2 linked regions of the Homo sapiens genome follow. The protein of the gene in region 2 interacts with the protein of the main gene of each other region in a pairwise test. Each region holds a gene or a part of one and is shown on either strand. Other genes may lie near its edges.

Evidence for each region. Proteins that work in one complex are often made in the same cells at the same time.
Region 1: the proteins of ACTL7B (region 2) and CASP6 interact in binary tests that used the Homo sapiens proteins (3 or more experiments, as listed by UniProt).

The regions. Positions count from the first base shown.
Region 1 is NC_000004.12:109,699,874-109,707,444, reverse strand, and holds the start of CASP6 (caspase-6 isoform alpha precursor), read left to right. Parts: upstream 1-3,999; 5' UTR 4,000-4,049; coding exon 4,050-4,089; intron 4,090-7,571.
Region 2 is NC_000009.12:108,853,431-108,861,007, forward strand, and holds ACTL7B (actin-like protein 7B), read right to left. Parts: upstream 2,557-7,577; 5' UTR 2,501-2,556; coding exon 1,253-2,500; 3' UTR 1,158-1,252; downstream 1-1,157.

The DNA.
Region 1 (7,571 bases), on a different chromosome or scaffold from region 2:
ATTGCACTCCAGCCTGGGCAACAACAGCTAAACTGTCTCAAAAAAAAAAAAAAAAAATCCAGGAGTTACCTCCAGTTTACTTTGGCCCAAGTTTCATATACAAAGAACATTTAAAATAAGTTACTGCAAGTCCTACAAAGTAACTTGCACTGGGGAAAGGACTACACATGAAACAGGAACATATATGCCACCCCCTATGGGATACCTCAGAGGGATTTCGAGTTTGGTTCCAGACCACCAATAAAAGAGTCACACAAATTTTCTGGTTTCCCAGTGCATATGAAAGTTTTTCATACTAAAGTGTAGTCTGTTAAGTGTGCAATAACATGTCTAAAAAAATAATGTATATACCTTAATTTTAAAATATTGCTAAAAGATGCTAGGGATCATCTGAGCCTTCAGCGAGTTATAAATGTTGGTGTGGGGTATTGTTGAGGGCTGCTGACTGATTAGGGTGGTAGTTGCTGAAGGCTGGGATGACTGGCAATCTCTTAAAATAAGGCAATAAGGAAGTTTGCTTCATTTTTTTGTTTGTTTTGAGATGGAGTCTCGTTCTGTCACTCAGGCTGGAGTGCAGTGGCATGATCTTGGCTCACTGCAACCTCTGCCTCCTGGTTCAAGTGATTCTTGTGCCTCAGCCTCCTGAGTAGCTGGGATTACAGGTGCCTGCCACCGTGCCCGGCTAATTTTTGTTATTTTTAGTAGAGACAGGGTTTTGCCATGTTGGCCAGTCTGGGCTCGAACTCCTGGCCTCCCAAAGTCCTGGGATTACAGGCATGAGCCACTGCACCTGGCCATCCATTGATTGTTCCATTCACTAAAGATTTCCCTGTAGCATGTGATGCTGTTTGGTAGCATTTTATCCACAGACCTTCTTTCAAAATTGGGGTCAATCCCCCCAAACCCTGCCACTGCTTTGTCAACTAATACCCTGAATCCTTTGTTGTCATTTAAACACAATTCACAGCATATTCACCAGGAGTAGATTCTATCTCAATAAACCACTTTCTTTGCTCATCCGTAAAAAGCATCTCCTCATCTATCAAAGTTTTATCATGAGATGGCAACAATGCAGCCACATTTTCAGGCCCCACTTCCAATTCTATTTGTCTTGCTACTTCTGCCACATCTACAGTGACTTCCCTCACTGAAGTCTTGAACCCCTCAACATCAGTGATGAGGATTGGAATTAACTTCTTTCAAACTCCTGTTAATGTGGAGATATATGCATATACCTATGTATAATGTATGTGTGTGTGTATATGTGTGTGTGTATATATATATATATATATATATATATATATATATATATAAAATGGATAGGTATGTTGTCCTGCCTGTAAAATACCACCCAGTGTGCCAATTGAAATATATATAATTTTTAAATATTTATATATGTATTTTATATATATTATATATATATATATATATATATATATATATTTTTTTTTTTTTTTTTTTTTTTTTTTTAAAGAGTGTCTTACTCTGTCACCCAGACTGGAGTGCAGTGGCACAGTCAGCTGACTGCAGCCTCAAACTTGGGCTCAAATAATCCTGCCATCTTAGTGTCCTGAGTTGCTGGGAATACAGGCATGTGCCACCACTCTTGGCTAATTAAAAAAAAAAAAAAATTGTAGAGACAGGGTCTTGCATTGTTGCCTAGGCTGGTCTCAAAACTCCTGGCCTCAAGCAATCCACCTTGGCCTCCCAAAGTGCTGGGTTTACAGGCATGAGCCACTGTGGCTGATACATGTACTTTTAATTTTTCGTTTTTCTTTTTTTCCCCCTCTAGTCTCTAGTTACATACCGTAAGTGGATATTTTGACCTCCCATGAATCACAAATGTTCTTAATGGCATCTCGAATGATGAATCCTTTCCAGAAGATTTTCAATTTACTTTGCTCAGAACTATCAGAGGAATCATGATGACAGCTATAGCCTTATGAAATGTATTTTGTAAATAAGACTTGAAAGTCAAAATTTCTCCTTGATCCCTGGGCTTCAGAATGGATGTTGTGTTAGCAAGCACGATAACAGCATCAGTCTCTGTACATCTCTATCAGAACTCTTGGATGACCAGGTGTATTGTCAATGAGGAGTAATATTTTGAAAGGAACCTTTCTTCTGAGCACTAGAGCTCAACAGTGGGCTTTAAATATTCTCTAAGCCATGCTGTAAATAGATGTGCTGTCACTAACTAGCCTTTGTTGGTCCATTTATAGATCATATTTAGCATAATTCTTAAGGGCACTAGGATTTTCAGAATGGTAAAGGAATGTTGGCTTTAAAGTCATCAGTTGTATTAGCCCCTAACAAGAGCATCAGCCTGTTCTTTGAAGCTTTGAAGACAGGCATTGACTTCTCTCTAGCTATGAAAGTCTTAGATGGAATCTTCTTCCAATAGAAGGCCGTTTCATATACATTTAAGATCTGTTGTTTTGGCTGGGCACGGTGGCTCACACCTGTAATCCCAGCACTTTGGGAGACCGAGGCGGGCAGATTGCTCAAGGTCAGGAGTTCAAGACCAGCCTGGCCAAACATGGTGAAACTCTGTCTCTACTAAAAATACAAAATTAACCTGGACATGGTGGCACATCCTGTAATCCCAGTTACTTGGGAGGCTGAGGCAGAAGAATCGTTTGAACCCAGGAGGCAGAGGTTGCAAAAGATCGCACCACTGTACTCCAGCCTTGGTGACAAAGCAAGACTGTCTCAAAAACAAAAGATTGTTGTTTAGTGTAGCTGCCTTTATCAATGATTTTAGCTAGATCTGGATAACCTGATGCAGCTTCTACGTTAGCACCTGCTGCTTCACCTTGCACTTTTATGTCATGAAGATAGTTTCTTTCCTTAAACCTCAGGAACCATCCTCTCTGCTAGCTTCCAGCTTTTCTTTTGCAATTCCCTCACCTCTCTCAGCCTCCATAGAATTGAAGAGTTAGGGCCTTGCTCTGGATTAGGCTTTGGCTTAAGGGAATGTTGTGGCTGTTTTTATCTTCTATCCAGACCAACTAGAACTTTCTCCATATCAGCAATAAGGCTGTTTAGCTTTATTGTCTTTTGTGTGTTTACTGGAGTAGCATTTTTAATTTCCTTCAAAATTTTTTCCTTTGCATTCATGACTTGGCTTTTCTCCTTTGCACTCACAACTTGGCTAACTGGAGCAAGAAGCCTAGCTTTCTGCCTACCAACATTACTTCCTCACTAACTTAATCATGTTTGCTTTTGATTTAAAGTGACAGGCTCTTCCTTTCATTTGGACACTTAGAGGCCTTTGTAGGATTATTAGTTGGCCTAATTTCAAAATTGTGTTTCCAGGAATAGGGAGGCCCCAGGAGGGGGAGAGAGAAGGGAAAGTTCGGTGGAACAGTCCAAACACATACAGGGCTTATGGATTAATTTCCCCTTCCTTTATGAGCGCGGTTCATGGTGCCCCAAAACAATTGCAATAATATTAAAGATTACTGATCACAGATCACAACAGCAGACATAATAACAATGAAAAATTTTGAAATATTGCGAGAGTACCAAAATGTGACACAGAGACACAAAGCGAGCCAATGTTGAAATACAGGCAGTATCTGCTAAGCGGTATAAAACAATCTATGCCTGTACCTCTAGAAAGTACAGGCATAGCAAAGTAAGGAATAGCAAATGTTTGGGGCAGCTGGGATTAAATGAGTCCGAGCTCACACAAGTGATGTGAAATTGCCTCGGGCTAGGCGGTCTGTGTGTCCCCCCGGGTGGCAACTGGCATGTCCCCAGGGCACGGTTAGTCCCAGCGGGCCTGGAGGCGAAGACCGCGTACCTCTCCCTGCCCCCGCGCTCTTGGTCCCCGCGGGCTCCGGAGCGACTGGGAGGAGCTTTAACTCTGGGAAGGACCAGCCCGATCCACGGGAGCCCGGGCGGCGCGCAATCAGAACCAACTGGCCCCACGCTCGGGGGCAGGGGGCGGGGCCGCCGAGGAAGGGCCGAGGGCGGGGCCGGGCCCGGGAGCCTGTGGCTTCAGGAAGAGGAGGGCAAGGTGTCTGGCTGCGCGTTTGGCTGCAATGAGCTCGGCCTCGGGGCTCCGCAGGGGGCACCCGGCAGGTAGGCAGGGGGCGTCGACTGGGCACCGAGCAGGTCTGCGTCTTGCTCCGGCTGGAGGGGAAACGAGGGTTAGTGGACCGGGCGCGCGGACCGGAGTGGGGCCGCGGGTTCCTTCGGCTTTGCAGGGCGGCCTGGAGAAGTTGCACTCTTGGATTGAAGCGCTCAGGGCGGGTGGGGACGGTTTCGCGCTTCAGTCTAAGAAACACTCGGGGACCTGGCTGCCGCCTCCTGGCGGTCCCGAGTAGCGACGCCGGCGCCGGGGCGTGCCCCTGCCGCCTTTGTCCTCCGGGGCGATGAGCGCTTTCGGGGCGCCCCGGCTGTTTAAACCTTAAAAGGCTGTCCCCACGCGGGCCTGGCGTTCCCCCACACCTGGCCGTTTGAAATGTTGGGGGTTGGATCTTTTGTTTGCTCACTTCGAAAAGTGAAAAGGAGGGGTTGTTCCGCCGAGTCATAATGAAAACATAACAGGCCCGCGGGGTGCCCGGGCCAAGACCCTGGGTCCTCCCGGGCTTCAGCTGGAGGCGGCCAGTTCCTGGCGGCCAGCACACCCCGGTATCTCTCTTCTTCATCCAGGAAACCTGCTGCTGTCTGTCGGTTTGAGCCAAAACCACAATAACTTTTTTCTGCAAAGTAATCAACTGCTAAGAGCGTACGTTCTGTCACTTATTACTGGTAAAGTTTAGAAACTTCAAGCCTGGCCAGAGTGAAACAAACAAAAAGGTCGAAACGCCTGCAGTTGGCCGGCCGTGGTGGCTCACGCCTTGTAATCCCAACACTTTGGGAGGCCGAGGCGGGCGGATCACCAGAGGTCGGGAGTTCTCGACCAGCCTAACTAACACGGTGAAACCCCGTCTCTACTAAAAATACAAAAAAATTAGCCAGGCCTGGGCGCAAGCTACTGGGGAGGCTGAGACAAGAGAATCGTTTGAACCCTGGAGGTGGAGGTTGCAGTGAGCCGAGATCGCCCCACTGCACTCCAACCTCGGCGACAGAGTGAGACTTCGAATCAAGAAGAAAAAAAAAAAAAAAGAACGAAACGCCTGCAGTTGGTTAGAGTGCCTTTGTTTAAGAACTCTTTATATTTTGCTGCACAAAGGAAATGGTGCTCCAGAGGCAAGCTGTAAAAGTCACATGGTCGTAGAGGAGGTAGATAGGTAGCCTTGTCCTGGAGGCACAGTGCAGGGTCCAGTTGCAGTCTCTAGGGGCGGGAAGCCGGGGCTTTCCTTCACTCACCTGCTCCCTTCCTCTTCTTCCTCCACCGCACTCCCCAGTGCATGTTCTAGGCCTGATGGAGGTTACTCTACATAGGGTTACTAAATACATTGTTGATGGAGCCGATGGGTAGATTTTCATAGAGAGTGCAGTGAATGAAGACGATGACAGTAGAATGACCGAAGTCGTTTGGGAAGTTGAACAAAGTTTAGAAAGGTAGCCGGTCTCGGGTGGGAGGGGCTGCGTGGGGATGGGCCTACAGAGACTTTGGAATCTGTAGGTGGGCTGGCTTTCAATCCCAGCTTCACTTTGCCGACCTTGGCACGCCTGGCCCACTTTCTCTGTCCCTGTTCCTGAGCTGTGGAGCTGTGAGATAAGGTATCTAAGGCATCAGGCCATCAACAAATGGTAGCTGGCAGGATTATCTGGAGGGACTATCAAATTAGAGTGAGGTGAAAAAAGGAATGATTAGTTTTGTAAAACCTAAGCTGATTTAAGGAATAAGGAGGTGGCAGTTACATTATCCTGCAAAGGAAGAGAAGTGAAAAGAGGGCCAGACACAGTGGTGGGCGCCTCTAGTCCCAGCTACTGGGGAGACTGAGGCAGGAGAATCGCTTGAAACCTGGAGGTGGACTTGCAGTGAGCCAAGATTGCGCCACTGCACTGCAGCCTGGGCGACAGAGGGAGGCTCTGTCTCAAAAAAAAAAAGTGAAAAGAGGTCAAGAATCAGGTTTAAAGAAGGGCACATTTTTGATAAGTAGATTGCAGATGAAAAGGAATTTCTATATCTGTTATACAGGGTAGCTCCTTCATTAAAATTTATTTTCTCCATATCAATAAAGCTATTTCTTACTTTATCCAGGTTTTTAAATATTAACGCAGGCCGGGCGTGGTGGCTCATGCTTGTAATCCCAGCACTTCCAGGAGGCTGAGGCAGGTGGATCACTTGAGGCCAGGAGTTCAAGACCAGCCAGGACAACATAGCAAAACCCTGTCTCTACTGAAAATACAAAAAAAAAGTAGCTGGGTGTGGTGGCGCATGCCTGTAATCCCAGCTACTCAGGAGGCTGAGGCGGGAGAATCGCTTGAACCCGGAGGCGGAGGTTGTGGTGAGCCGAGACCACGCCACTGCACTCCAGCCTAGGCAACAGAGCAAGACTCCATCCCAAAAAGATAGTAATAAAAAATAAATATTAATGCGGCATAATGATACTTAAGTGCCCCCTTCTGGAAAGCTTGTCTTCTTGGGATACACAGCTCAAGGTGGTCATGATGTGTTATTTTCTCTCAATCTGTGGGTAAAGTTTATCAACTCCAGAAAAGTATTGGAACTTAGGTCCTGGCATCTGTCTCCATAGCTTTTTGTTCTGATTCAGTGTTTGCTAGAGTGGCCACTGGACCTGGTCATTAACTGGTACTGCAGGATGCAGGGTGCACTTTGTGAGAGTGAAGGTAAGTTACAGCTGGCCAGCATCAGAATTGGGATGTCCAGAGCCTAGGTTTTTTTCTACATCCGTAGCATTAACAAACAACAACAACAACAAAAAACTTAAAAAAAAAATCCCTCACTGAGGTTGCCAAATCTGTTAACTTTGAAACTGAATGTATTAAGAGATGGGGTCTAGCTCTGTTACCCAGGCTGGAGTATGGTGACTATTCACAGGGGCAGTCATAGCACACTATGTCCTAGAACTCTTGGGCTCAAGAGATCCTCCTGCCTTGGCCTTCCAGGTAACCGGGACTATAGGCTTGCCACTATGCCCGGCCAGAACGTCATTTTAAACAGATTTTCTTGAGCAGCTACTTAATACTAGTTAGCCATTCCTAAACCTGTAGGTCTTGACTAATGTGAGGGCATATTTGAGACAACCCAAACTCACATCTTAAGTTATTAATTTTAATGTGTCAGCTAACAACTGGGAAGCTACTTCTTTGGCAATATGAGAAACAAGAGTTTTAAAGACCCAAGCAAGAATACATCTCCAGTGTTTTCACCCTGAGGGATATGAGTTAGTTTGCTGAGCAGCCATTTGGCACAGCTTCCATGAGTTAGGTTGTGAGCCGCCTTCGGCTCAGCAGTCAGTATGGAGCAGAAGCCACAGGAGGTGAGCCGCTGGCCTGCTGCCACCGAGGAGGACACTGAGACATGAGTGCTTTCCAAGTTGTGCAGAATTTTGGCATGTGAGGAGGATGGTTGTGACATATGGATTTAATTTTCTTGAAGTTATTGTTTCTTTATACTCTAATTGGTTAAAAGATAAGCAGGTGAG
Region 2 (7,577 bases):
AGGGTAGAGACTGTGTTCTGCTCATTTCTCAGTCCCCAGCACTGGGCCTGACCCACAGTACATGCATGGTAAGTGCTTTGGGTTGCTGACTAACCATTAAGAACCATGTTTATACCCTTATGGGAATAATCCTGATGTGGATCAGGAGACCTGGGCTCAACCACTGGCATTAAGCTGGCTCTCTCCTCTCTGGTCTCAGTTTACCTATCTCTCTTTTTTTTTTTTCTTTTTGGACATGGAGTCTTGCTCTGTTGCTCAGGCTGTAGTGCAATGACGCAACCTCAGCTCACTGCAACCTCCGCCTCCTGGGGTCAAATGATTCTCCCTGCTCAGCCTCCTGGGGAAGCTGGGATTACAGGTACCCACCACCATGTCCAGCTAATTTTTGTATTTTTAGTAGAGACAGGGTTTCACCATGTTAGCCAGGCTGGTCTCGAACTCCTGACCTTAGGTGATCCACCTGCCTCGGGTTCCCAGAGTGCTGGGATTACAGGTGTGAGCCACCGCACCCAGCCCAGTTTCCCCATCTCTATAGCCGGGAGAGGACCCGATTTCTAAAGGACCTTCTGGTTCCTCTGACATCCTCTGGAATCAGTGGCTCTGCTTTGTGACTCTGGAAAAATAGCTGCAATTTTGGCTGTGGTTGAAAGGGGTACGCCCACAGATGGGTTGAAATGGCACTTCACACTCTGGAGATGCACTGGCACAGCCTTAGGCTCCCATATTGAGGGTGGCAGGCACTAGGGGGAGGTTAGGGAACCTGGAGTGATCAGGCAGTGTTAAGGTTGGGAGCACTTGTGAACAGCAGAAACAGGAGACTGGAGTCGGACACCCAGCTGTGCATCTCCTCCAACCTACCGCTAGGTGACCCAAGCTAGTCCCTTCATCAGAGCCAACCCCCTTAGTTGAGCCAGCGATGAGGAGTGTCTTTGGATCAGGTTTTGAACCTGGAGGTACTAATAAAACAGGAGGCCACTTTCTAGGCCCTGAGATGATGTCACTATCATGAGGCAGGCAGAGGGGGTGGGATCAGTATGGTAGCCCCCTTCCTTACAGCCCCCACCTCCAGTGCAAAAGGTGCTGCCGCTTCTAAGCCCGACTCCCCCCTACCCTCTGCTATCAGATAGAAGCAAGAAACCCAGACTAGACAAGAGCCATTTCAGAGTAAACCTTTATGTGAAATTCTGTAAATGTGTATAGAGAGGCCTGTGGCCATCTGTGCTGGAGGCCTTGTCTGTGGAAATGCCGAGGCTCAGCACTTGCTGTAGATGGCCACGCTGCCCCGCTCCTCAAACTCTTCCTTGCTGACCCAGAGCTGTTGGAAGGCCTGCAGGGAGGCCAGGATGGAACCGCCGGTCCACACGGAGGTCTTCCTCTCAGGAGCGGCAGCCACTGCAGGGCTGTCCCCGGGGCAGAGGAGGCTCAGCTCCCTCTGGAAGCGCTCGGGGAAGCCATCCAGCATAGTGCAGCCGCCACACAGTAGCACGTTGGCGGCCATCTCCTCCTTGAAGCCCGTGTCCTGGCAGCGGCCCAGGCAGGCAGCTGTGAGCTCCGGGAGGCCCGGCTGGGTGCTGCCTGCCAGGGAGGGCTGGAAGAGCATCTCAGAGCAACGGAAGCGCTCCTGGCCAATAGTGATGAGTTTGCCGTCCGGGAGCTCGTAGTCCACGCGCAGCTCCTCCGGGACCAGGCCCAGCTCCTCCTCGGGCAGGAAGGCCGCATAGCAGCACTTCTTCTTGATGTGCTCTATGATGTGCAGGTGGTCGTCCGTGAATGCGTGGCCCGCCTCATTGAGCAGCTGCATCAGGTAGTTGGTGAGGTCACCCCCAGCGTAGTCGGCGCGGCTGGTCAGGCCCGGCAGCACGTCGCCCTCGGATATGGGCACCACGTGCGAGACGCCGTGCCCGCTCTCCACCACCAGCCCCGAGGTCTTGCCGTAGGAGTAGATGGACAGCAACGACTGGGACGTCACGTGCATGGCTGGGATGCCGAAGGTCTCAAACATGAGCTCCGCGTACTTCTCCCGGTTGCTGCTGGGGCTGAGCGGAGGGTCGGAGACCAGCACAGCGTGCTCCTCGGGGAGGATCTTCATGGCGGTGCGGAAGATGTACTCCCAGATGTCCTGCACGCAGTCCCAGTCCACCACGATGCCGTGCTTCAGCGGGTTCACCAGCTTGAGAGGCGCCTCCGTGTTGAGCAGCTCATGGCCCACTAAAGTCCACTTGCGGGTGTCGCCAGCGTCGGCCGCCTCGGGGCAGCGTTTGCCCACGGTGGAGGAGATGAAGTAGGTGGGCCTCGGCTCTCCCGCGTAGCCGCACTTGCAGTACTGGGAGCCCAGGTCGATGATGACCGCCTTGATCTTGTGCACCTTCCTGGGCTTCATCTTGAGCTGAGTGGCCGCACCTGTGTCCCGGAGGCTGGCGTCAGGGCCGGGCCGTGTTCCTGCCTCTCCAGGGTCACCCTGAGCCGTGCCCAGGGGCATGGGGCTGTTCCTTGTCGCCATCTGCCTCCCTTGCTCCCCTTCTCACATCCACAGCCTAGAGCCCCCTGGGGAGAAATGAGATCCCCCACCTCCAGCAGTGCCATGACAACCACCCGGGATTGTGATGTCACTCGGGGCTGGTCCATTCAGGCAGCAGGGGAGGGCCTGGCTTTGGTCGGTTCTTGGTGTGTCACCCCCACCTCTCTAACTCAAGTTTGCTCCCGGACAGAGCAGGTGGCCGGCAGTTTTAGAAATCCAAGCACACTAGGGTCTCAGAGGTTTCTGCTCAGCCCCCTTGCATTTCCATGCCTAACCTGTTCACTACTGGACACCTTTCCTCTTCTGCTTCTTGGTGGAGAGGGCCTATTTGAGCCCCTCCAGTAAGGCAGGCACTGTACTAGTTACTTCACTTATGTTGTTCTGCAGGTAGGCAGAGCTGAGGAAATGAGGCTCAGAATTCTAAGGACTTGCCCAAGAGCAAACAGCACTTGGGGTGTTTGTACCTTAACCCAAATTCATCAAACTCCAATGCACCAGGCCTCCTTAACCGCCCCAAGAGTTCTTTCCTCCCTTCACTCCACATTTACTGGAGTATATAGTAGGTCCCGCCCAGTGCAGCCTGCCAGTGATAGATGATTAAAAACCCAGGCCACCAGCAGTGCCCAGTCTAGACAAGAAAATGGAATGGGTGCCGATGGGTTTGCAGGAAGAAGTCTACTTGGAGAACTCATTTGAGACAGGCAGTCAGAAGGTGCTCTAGAGAGGAGGTGATGCTTAAGTTGAATCCTGGAAGAGGTGTAGGTATTTGTCAAGTAGTTAAGAGGAGGGGAAGACATCCCAGGCAGAGAGCACAGCTTGAGCAAAGGCTCAAATGGAGGCACGGTGAAGAACTTCCCACAGTCAAAGTGTTTGGAAAAACAGATGAAGCTAGAGAAGTCACAGAGCCAAATAGAAAGGGCATCAAATGGCAGGAGTAGGTTTAGACTAAACTGAGGAGAGCCAGGGAAGCTATGAAGACTTTAAGCAGGGGAATGATCAGATTTGCCCTCTAGAAAAATGTTAGAAAGGGCCGGGCGTGGTGGCTCATGCCTGTAATCCCACCAGCACTTTGGGAGGCTGAGGCAGGTGGATCATGAGGTCAGGAGTTCAAGACCAGCCTGGCCAAGATGGTGAAACCCCATCTCTACTAAAAATACAAAAATTAGCTGGGCATGGTGGCGGGTGCCTGTAATCCCAGCTACTTGGGGGGCTGAGGCAGAGAATTGCTTCAACCTGGGAGGCAAAGGTTGCAGTGAGCTGAGATCGCACCACTGCACTCCAGCCTGGGAGACAGAGTGAGACTCCATCTCAAAAAAAAAGAAAAGAAAAATAAAAATGTTAGAAAGATCTGCATTGGGCTGTAATGTAGAGAATGGATGGGAGGGGCAAGACTAGAAACTGAGACCCGAAACGAGGCCATTGGAGAACTTCTGATAAGACTTGAAGGTGGCCTGACCTAGGGCTGTGAGAGTGTGGAAACAAGGAAGAGCCTAGTTCTAGAGAAACTTAGAAAGTAGAATAGAATCCAATCTGTTTTTTCCCCAACCATCCCTCACTTTAATCCAAGCTCTTACTCTGACATTTCAGGGCTTCCCTCATGGGCTCCTGTGATGTGGGATGTGAGGCAGAGGGAAGGATGAATCGCTTACTTGTACCCGGGCAAAGAAAGATGGCCTGTCATCCAGAAAGGACAAATTCACGAGAGTGCCAGAGGGACCTGCAACTTAAGCTGCCCCCTCCCACTCCAAAAATCAAAAAGGCAGTTTAGGGCTTTGGTGGTGAAGAGTCAACAGAAAAAGGGGAAGAGCGGCAACTGGGCCTGAGGAAGTTTTCTGGGAGAATTAAGATGAGCAGAGGTGCCTGAGGAATTGATTAGGCAACATGCATGGGGGAAAAAGAGTTAAGAAATACTGCCATGGAGCATGTAAGAATGCTAATGAGGAATGTGTGGGGATTTTTGTTTGCCAAATTTTTGTTTGTTTGTTTGTTTCTGAGACAGAGTTTCGCTCTTTCGCCCAGTCTGGAGTGCAGTGGCGCGATCTCAGCTCACTGCAACCTCCGCCTTCCAGTTTCAAGCGATTCTCCTGCCTCAGCCTCCCCAGTAGCTGGGATTACAGGCACCTGCTACCACGCCTGGCTAATTTTTGTATTTTTGGTAGAGACGGGGTTTCACCATGTTGGCCAGGCTGACATTGAACTCCTGATCTCGTGATCCGCCCGCCTTGGCCTCCCAAAGTGCTGGGATTACAGGTGTGAGCCACCATGCCCAGCCCGCTGAATTGTTTCTTGGAACATGGCAGCATTCAACTATATTATTTGGGTAACAACTTTCTAAGGGTTATAATTATGAACATCATGACCCAGAAATGCCCTGTGGTGGGATCATGAAATCACAGAAGCTGAGGATTGGACCCTTCAGTTCCTTCTAGAACATTCCATCCAGTAGTCTGACATGGACAGCTCACCCTATTTTGGCCAGCCATGAGTGATAAACGTTTCGTCACACTGGATTGGCATGTGTACCTCTCTGAAGCCATTAAATGGTCTTGGGTCTACTCTTGAAGTTCTACGGGGCAAGCAAATTCTTCCACGACAACTCTTAGGCTATTTAAAGGCAGTATTCATGGACTGCCAGAGCCTACTTTTTATCCATTCCTTACAGAAAGGCAGTACAGAGCAGATGGAAGACTGAGGAACTGGATTCCGAAGACCTGGGTTCAAACATAGACTTATTATTTATAATCTGTATGACTTTGGGTAAACTACTTGAAATGTTGTTTGAATGTGATTACCATTTTGCTATGTCCCCTCGTCAACTTGACCCCTACCCACAGCCTCCAGGTCTCTGCCTTGAGCTGCTAAGTGGATGATGGTGACACACACACATACACACACACACACACACACACACACACACACTCACATTTGGGGTCTGCTGACTTAGAGATGCCCAAAGGTCACTAGGCTGTGGGACACTGGGCTGGAGCACATGGAAAGGGAAGCATCCGGATCCACATTTGCATGCTCAGTAGCACATCTGCCCCTGAAGACAGCTCCTCTCCCTTCCACCTCGGGGAAATGGACACAGTCTTGGGACCTGGGTGTCCACACTGGGATCTGAGCTGTGAGAAAGCAGCTCAAAGTGCCTGTTTGGCAAGGATCTTCTTTGTTGGGAGCTCCTGACTCAGGGGTTCTCCAGCATATTCAAGAGTTGGAAAGGCTGTGGTGGGCTCCAGTAATTTTTAAGAAAAACTCCAGGTGATTCATGAGAAGAAATGCCATGCTGGATTTTCTTTTTTTCCCTCCCATTGCTGCTAAAATTCCAGAGGCCTGGCTCACCTCTCCTCCAAAGGTCAAGGGTGGGCAGTGTCCCAAAACTGAAGCCAGGAGCCAGGATGCACCTCAGGCAGAAGTGTGTTCTTTAATCTCACCTTTCCATGTTCTCTCCCTCCACTATAGAAGAGGATCCCAGGGTTGCATTTGAAAAGGGGTCATCCCATGGTTTTTTTGGTCTTGAGCCAGAGGGCTAAAAGTAGGTGTGATCCCATTAGAAAATGTGGCCCAATATATTTTGAGCACTATAGGGTGCCTCTCCCAAGAGGGACCTCACTAGGGACCCCAGAGGGCCCACACAGACCTTAGCTGGTGACAATTATGGGGGGTGTGTGTGCTAGGCAGTGGAGGTTTGGGGCACGGTGTCCACAGTCTCTGCATTCTTCCATCATTACCACTAACCGTGTGATGACCCATAGAGGGAGAGAAGAGGCACAGAGGGTAACAGGAAGCTTAGGGGAAACAGGGTTTTTATTAGGAGCACCCAACATGTGAAACTCAGTGGTGAAGTAAAAGGAGGGCAAGTGTTTCATTGGCTTTTGCTCAGAGAATGTGAGGGGAATCCCTATGCTCAAGGACCTTACAGACTAGATAGAGTGACTGCCTTACACTAAAGCATCACCTCTTCCACACACAAATGCAGAAAGTGTGATGACAGATGACAGATGGGCAAGCCTGGGCAGCCCACGAAGAGCAAATGAGTCAGAGCATGTCAGGCTTGGAGTGTATTAGCAAAGAGGGAGGCACTGAACAGGTGAAAGGGTCCTCCAAAGGTGTCCACATCTTAATCCCTGGGACCTGTGACTATATTAACTTTCATGCCAAAAGGGATTCTGTGGATGTGATTAAATGAAGGAATCTGAGATGGGGAGAGTATCCTGTATGGCCTGGGTGGGGCCAATGTAATCACAAGGGTCCTTATATGGGGGATACAGGAGGGTCAAGGGCAGAGAAGCAGATGTGACAATGACAGCTCTAGTCTGAGAGTCTTCCAAGATGGAGGAAGGGACTATGAGCCAAGGAACACAGGTGGCCTCTAGGAGCTGGAGGCAAGAGGAAGTATTGTCTCCTACACCTCCAGAAGGAATACAGCCCTGAAAGAACCTTAATTGTAGCCCACTAAGAAGAATTACGAACTTCTGACCTCCAAAATAGTAAGATAATAACTGTGAATTGCTTTAAGCCACTAAATCCATGGTAATTTGTTACAGCAGAAACAGGAAGCTAATACAGGCTCTTCTAGGAGTCCAGGTTAGTGAAAAGGCACCAAGCAGCTATAGATTTCGCAACATTCAAGTAGGGTTTGGGAAGAAAAAAATGGAGGGTTTTAAATTACATATGCCTTTGGTTACCATATACAGCACTTTTGAAATAAAGTCAAACAATCTGAGTTGCCCACGCAAATCCCTGAACGGCAGAGGCAATTAAACTGTTTTTCAGGCAGCCAGGCATCAAAAGTACTTTCCTATTTTTCCTTTAAAATTCCATGCTATTATCTCACCCACTAACCAATGAAGCAAGAAACTGAGATTTTGTCCTTGGGATGACACCTTGCTGCCCCCATCAGATAGTCACCACAAACCTCATGAGACTGGACTTGGTCCTTTTCTTCTCTCATACCCAACAAGGAACTGAGAGCAACTCCCGTAGCCTCTCTAAAGGAGAAAGCCCATTATTGTGGTGACTGCCTCTTTTATGAAGGGCTGGGATCAGGTTCAGGGTGTGG